Linked DNA regions of Homo sapiens. The protein of the gene in region 2 interacts with the protein of the main gene of each other region in a pairwise test. Each region holds a gene or a part of one and is shown on either strand. Other genes may lie near its edges. The genes, in order: GPR37 and CCNQ.

Region 1 (3,024 bases), on a different chromosome or scaffold from region 2:
ATAAAACAGTAAGGCCGGTTTTAAATTGTGCATAGAACCAGTAATTGTATCTTTAAGGCAATTAGAAGATTTATTGAATATTGGTTAAAAGTAGATTGACAATGACATTAAAGAATAAAGTGTAATTTATTTGGTGCTACTTTGTGAATGCTTCCAAGTACAAATCATCTCACAATACCATATACAACATACTTTCAATCACAACTCAAATATAAAATAACCTACAAAATCACATTGCTATAATCAATATACAATAATTGTATTTTTAAAAGAAGAAAAAACGTTAGCAATTTTAAGTTAAGTTGCAGTAACTTTTTTCAAATAAAATATTAGCACCATACCAGATAAAATAATCTAAAACTATTGGCCTTCTCATTCTTCTTAAATAACTAAATAGAAACTTTTTTTCAAAGCACAAATATTAATTTGTAAAATCAGTTCTACAGTAGTTAATATTTCTTTCTTTATTGTTTCTTTTTTGCATTTTTCCCTATAAGGAAAAATATGAATTAAAAACTTTCACGGGATATGAAAATCAAACAAATAAATCTGACCCAACCAAGTACTGTCCTTCAGCAATGAGTTCCGACAGAAGCAAAAGTGGACATTTCACGGCGTATGGTACTGAAAGGCGAGAGTTCGAGTTCCGTGGTGTACTCGTTGTCATTGTCATCACTGGTCACCGTTGAAGACTTCTGAATGCATTCCTCACAGCAACAGCAGCAGCACTCCATGAAGGCCCGACTGAAGGGTTTGCAGAGACAGAAAAGGAGGACTGGGGTGACACAGGACTTAAAGAACAAAAGGAACTGGCTGATGATATTAAGGAGGTCCATTGTCTGCTGTGAAACCCCTGTAGCCATGTAGGCAGTAACAATGTTGCAGATATTTTCAGGAATAATGCAAAATCCATATAAAATGGTCAGTGCCACTACTGTACAGTTCATCTGACTCTCTAGTTGAATCTGCCGTTTATTCCCTCGGGTACAGGCTTTCTCTGCTTTGCGGATTTTCCTCGCAGTCACTAGAGAGCAGGTGATGGTGAAAAGCGTGGGCAAACAAAAGTAACAGCCAAAATACCACCACAGTCTCGCACTGTCGTAGGTGAGGGCTAGAACATAGATGGTGTCTGGTAAATCAGGAGAGATCTTAATAATGCACCTTTCTGCCGGAGCTCGGCCACTAAACCCCAAATCCTCCTTGCTCAGCTGGCGGAGAACAACTTCTGGAAGTGCTAACAATAGAGCTCCCACCCATATAACAGCAAGTTTGGCAGTTGTTGAGGAACAGTTTTCGATCATTTCGTAGTACATCTGTACGTTGGTGGCAGCACGGAAGCGGTCTATGCACAGAGCACATAAGGTGAAAGTGGTGACTCCCAGAGAAGCGACCTGTGGGGGAACATAGAAGACATTTATTCCCGGTGTCCCCCGAAAGATCAAAGCACTAGGAAATAAATGCAGATTGGCAAAACTGTAAAAAAAAATATGGATAAATAAAAATGAGAGAGAGAGAGAGAACAGTTTTCCAGAATGAGGCATGGGTAACTGGGCTCAGGACGTCAGCTGAATCATTGTAAGCATAAAAAAAGAAAACACACTGTAGTGGTTTGAGGGTCATGGAGTGCAGAACATTTAGGACTGGAAGGATCCATAAAGATCAGCTAGTCCAATCCCTTTTTATTATAGATCAGAACCCAGATACACTAAAAATTTTATTCACCACGAAAATGTCTGCCACTAGGAGATCTAGATAAGGAGTCAGGGTAGTGCAGAAATTCCCATTTTCATTGCTGACCAGGATGCTCATGTTTTCCAGTGTGAGGGTCAGTAGTGTGCCTTACACACAGCAAACACTCAAGAGCTTATTGTCTCCAATGGACTAAATGATTGGAGGGCTCCTCCAATTTTTCCTAAATGCAAAATAAAGTATTACAGTATTATTTTCAAAGGCATACACTTACGGAAAACAAGAAAGGGAAATTCTCCAGAGGCCAAAATCAAAAAGGAAACAAATTTCAAACAGGCCAGAGACCCCTCCCTCTTCATGCTGCGTGTTTGCCCTAGGGGCACCTGCCAATCCTGGTGAGGGTTTCAAGTTAGTTTTAGCTAGAAAAATGGGGCAAGGTGCCCAGGTGCACAGAGACAGGAAACAGAGCTGGGGCCAATGTGGGTGGGGATTGGGTCAAAGACTCCCTGTGAATTTGGAACTCCTCAAATGCTGACATCTTTAGAGGTGTAAAGGGAAAAAAGAGAGAGAGATAATGAAGAAATCTGCCTGGATGACAGGGTTTGGGTCTGGATGAACTGGGGGAAAAGGAGGGAAAAAAATGGCAAATTCTAACTGGGAGCCTGAACTTACATGGTGTTAGGATCAGAATTTCCAGGATCTACGTGGCTCAGAAAACCCAAAATACAATTTAAAATAATCCCAGGCACCTGGTTAAAATCAAACATAAATCCTCTCTGGAAGAATGCACTTTAAAACCAGGCCTCAAAAAATCCTATAGTTAAAATTCAAGGGACATGGGTTCACAAAATCAAAAGTCACAATATGCAAGAGACAATGAGCCACTATGAATTTATATGCCAAAGATACAGAATCAGACATAAGAAGTATATTTATCATAAAATAGGTATGTACATCAAATTTAAAGAAATAGGAGATACTAAAATAGAACATGTAAAAATACAAGAAAATATGCAGAAAATAGCCAAAAAGAATGTCTAGATATCCCAAACACAGGAAAATTTTGGAGCATAAAACTCTTTGACAATAACCACATGAAAAACTGTATTCAAAAAGGCACTGCTCTTATAAGCATATGGTCCAGACATCTAAAAAAATCAACATTTAAAGGTTAAGAACCAAAAATATGTACCTATTTTTTTTTCACATAGAGGCTCTCCAGGAATATAAACACATGTTCCTAATGTAAGCATGCTATCATTTCATTTACTTATAAAATATTTATTAAGCATTGTACATGTACTCAAATGGGGCAAACAGATACATATCCAACAC
Region 2 (3,820 bases):
GGATGCGGTCCATTCCCATTGCCACTGCTTGCACCATTTACCATAAGTTCTTTTGCGAGACCAACCTGGACGCCTATGACCCTTACCTGATTGCCATGTCTTCAATTTACTTGGCCGGCAAAGTGGAAGAGCAGCACCTGCGGACTCGTGACATCATCAATGTGTCCAACAGGTAATGGCATTTGGCTGGGCTCCTGATCTCCACCCGGTGGGGGGGACGGGCAGGGAAGGCTCCTATGGGGCCCTGCCCACCAGGTGCCAGCAATGGAGCTTGGAAGGAAGTACCTGGATGGCCTTGAACCAGGCAGGGCCAGAAACAGTAGCAGCAAACGTGAGAAGGAGCCTGATGTCAGAGGCCAGTGGGGTCTGTGAGAGAAACGCTGGGCCAGATTATGGGGAGCCTCGAAAGCTGGATGGAGGGCAGAGGCGGGGCTTCAGCAGAGGGAGCTTGGAGAGGCATGTCAAAGAAGATTCTGTGGAAGTCTTAGACAGGGATGGCTGCAGGCAGAAGAGCTTGCCTGCAGCGGGAGGGTGCAGACCCAGCCAGGTGGTAGGTCCCAGTTGCTTAGGAGCCTCGCCCTGCTGTGGGTGTGGCGTGGGCATGGCACAGCCGGCCCAAGCAGGTGTGTTCCTGCTGGGGCAGAATGCAGGGTCTTCGCCAAGGCGAGGGAAAGACGGTCTGGGAAATACAAAACTGAGAAATGTTCACTTTTTGGAGTATATCATTCCCATGAGAGGCTTAAACATGTTCCTTGGATGGCTGGACGTGGTGGCTCACGCCTGTGATCCCAGCACTTTGGGAGGCCGAGGCGGGTGGATCGCTTGAGCCCAGGAGTTCAAGACCAGCCTGGTCAACATGGTGAAACCTCGTCTCTACCAAAAATACAAAAATTAGCCGGGCGTGGTGGCGCATGCCTGTGGTTCCAGCTGCTCGGGTAGCTGAGGCGGGAGGATCGCTTGAGCCCAGGAGGTCAAGGCTGCAGTGAGCTGTGGCTGCACCACTGTACTCCAGCCTGAAAGGCAGAGCAAGACCCTGTCTCAAAAAGTAAAAAGTAAAAATAAGTTAAAAAAATACGTTCCTTGGGCCCAGAGTGAGAGCCCCGGGCATTGCCACCTCAGGTGATGAAGACTCCCTAATGCCGGGCTGAGTATAACAGGAAGCACAACCGACTTGGCATGCTCAAGCTTCCGGTTCCTCTGGAGCCATCGCCAACAGCCAGTCTTTGCACTTGACATTTTGCTGAATGATAGCGGACAGCCCATCTGGCTAAAACTAGGAGCTGGCTTCTTTCCTCTGTTGGTTACTGTTTTCATTCTCTACACTAGATGTGGAGATGAAGAATTTTTGTATAAAAACCCAAATAAAATGACCCTCCATGAATCTGCAGATGGACGATGTAGTTTGCATCTGGACATTGTGTGACTTAAGCAATTTGAGCCATCCAGTGCTCAGGAGACTGCCCTGGCTGCTGAAGCATTGCCATTTCTCTGCGCAGGTACTTTAACCCAAGCGGTGAGCCCCTGGAATTGGACTCCCGCTTCTGGGAACTCCGGGACAGCATCGTGCAGTGTGAGCTTCTCATGCTGAGAGTTCTGCGCTTCCAGGTCTCCTTCCAGCATCCACACAAGGTACATACTGGGGAACTGGTGCCTGTTTGGAGAGGCTCAAGCCATGGTCTCTGTTCTTTATCCCAAAAGTGCATCCCATCTCATACTCGAGAGCACAGCACAGAAGGAGAGCAGGGCTGCGGCTGGGAACTGGGTCTCCTGGCTCTGTGTTTGTGGCTGGGTTGGCCGCCCGGCCTCTCCCGTCCCACCCCTGTGGGTTTTCTCAGCCAATTCTCATTTCAGCTTCTGCCTTTCTGCCTGCTCACCTGTGGGCGGGGTCCGTGCTGCCCGCTGAAGCTGTGGCAGCTCCTGTGGTCCATATAGATGGTGTGCACGCTGGGCCTCGGGGAAGCAGGCTGGTTTTGTGACCGGCCAGAGTCCCCGTCCCCAGGGGATGCTGTGATGCCTCGGAGCACGCCTCCAGCTCAGCTGTGCTTAGGAAGCCATGGGGAAAGCCAAATCGCTTGAGTCAAGCAGCATGCTTTAACTTCTAGGAATGTGTGAGTCTCAACAGAAGAACCATTTCAAACAGCAGTAAAAGGGAAAAGTGGAACGCTTAGGCGACTGGCACACGATGCTCTGGGCACCGCAGCTCCATGCACGGGCAGCTCAGAAGGCTGGCCGGAGACAGAGATGGAGGAGTTGTGGTTTGGGGCTCTGGGCTAGGAGTTTCATTCTTTTTCATCGGAACTCTTCCTGAGATCATTGTAGATTCCCATGCAGTTGTGACATGTACCCTTAGCCCAGTCTCCCCCAGGGGTAACACAGCCAGGATGCCAAAACCAACACAGTCCACTGGCATCCTCACTTCCACTTGTATTCCTGTGTGTATATTTTTCTGTTCCATTTTATCACGACTCCGTTCACGGACCTACCACCACAGCCAAGGTGAGAGACGGTTCCACCCGCATGGGCCCTTCGTGTTGCCTTTATAATCTTGCCTCCAGCCTTCCACACTCCCACCTCAGTACCTGGAAAGCCCTGGTCTGGGATTTCTGCGCAGTAGTGTCTTAGTGGGCAGAATGCTTGCTGAGCATCCTGGGGGAAGGTGGGAGATGCCCTGGTGGCTGCAGGGTGGAGTTGTCAAGGCGACAGGGCTTAGGAAAGAGCAGCACTCAGACCTCAAGGGGTGTGTGATCTGTGCCCAGATGGGGAACTGATAGCTTGGTGTGGCTGGGAGCCTGCCAGCCCCTTCCCCTCCTTCCAGTCAGGGCTGGGGTGGAAAGTAACCTATGTATCCCTCCTGCATGGTGTGCTGGGGTCACACGCATGTGTGTTCCAGACTGTCCAGAGAGCTCGCAGCATCTGTCTTATTGTGTGAGGTTCTGGCAAAATGTCAGTGTTCTGAGAGCAGGAGCTGGCAGCTGGGCTGGGAGGTCATTTGGATGTTGTGGCCGAGGACAGCATGTGCCCTTGGCAGCAGGCCAGATGCATGGGGAGCAGCACCTTCTGTTCTGCCCATGAAGAGGGTGCTTTCCGGAGCACCAGGCCCCGAGGAATTTCATGGTGGCCAGAGCGGGCCCTGTGGTGGAGAGGGACTGTGGTGGGGGTGGCCCTCGTAGGTTTCCCTAGAGCTGGGTCTGGAGGGTGAGAGTGGGCAGGTGCATACGGTGAGCTGGTTTCAGGCAGAGGGCTCAGCAAGTGCGAAGGCCCTAGATGGGGTTTGCTGGAAGGCAGGGTGGGATCGGCAGGAGATGGGGCCAGCAGAAGGCCTTGGGGCTTCTTCCTGAGGGACATGGAAGCTGCTGGAGGGTTGGAGCAGGTGCTGATATGATTATGTCAGCATGAGGAGAGCAGCTGGTGGGCCTAAAGGCTGACACACGTGTCTTTGCAGTACCTGCTCCACTACCTGGTTTCCCTCCAGAACTGGCTGAACCGCCACAGCTGGCAGCGGACCCCTGTTGCCGTCACCGCCTGGGCCCTGCTGCGGGACAGCTACCATGGGGCGCTGTGCCTCCGCTTCCAGGCCCAGCACATCGCCGTGGCGGTGCTCTACCTGGCCCTGCAGGTCTACGGAGTTGAGGTGCCCGCCGAGGTCGAGGCTGAGAAGCCGTGGTGGCAGGTGAGGTGGCTGCTTGGCACACTGGACGTGCCCCCTTTCCCTCTGGAAGTCTCTGTATTGCAGTGCTCACCAAATTCTATTAATTATCCATGAAGAAAGATACGGGCTGCTGGGGAACATGGAAGCTCGAAAGTACCCTGTTGCGATGGC

The links.
Region 1: the proteins of CCNQ (region 2) and GPR37 interact in a two-hybrid assay, tested with the Homo sapiens proteins (one large-scale study listed by BioGRID and IntAct).

The regions. Positions count from the first base shown.
Region 1 is NC_000007.14:124,745,953-124,748,976, forward strand, and holds part of GPR37 (prosaposin receptor GPR37 precursor), read right to left. Parts: intron 1,392-3,024; coding exon 573-1,391; 3' UTR 1-572.
Region 2 is NC_000023.11:153,592,356-153,596,175, reverse strand, and holds part of CCNQ (cyclin-Q), read left to right. Parts: coding exon 1-172; intron 173-1,496; coding exon 1,497-1,629; intron 1,630-3,442; coding exon 3,443-3,670; intron 3,671-3,820. UniProt on the Homo sapiens protein: Activating cyclin for the cyclin-associated kinase CDK10.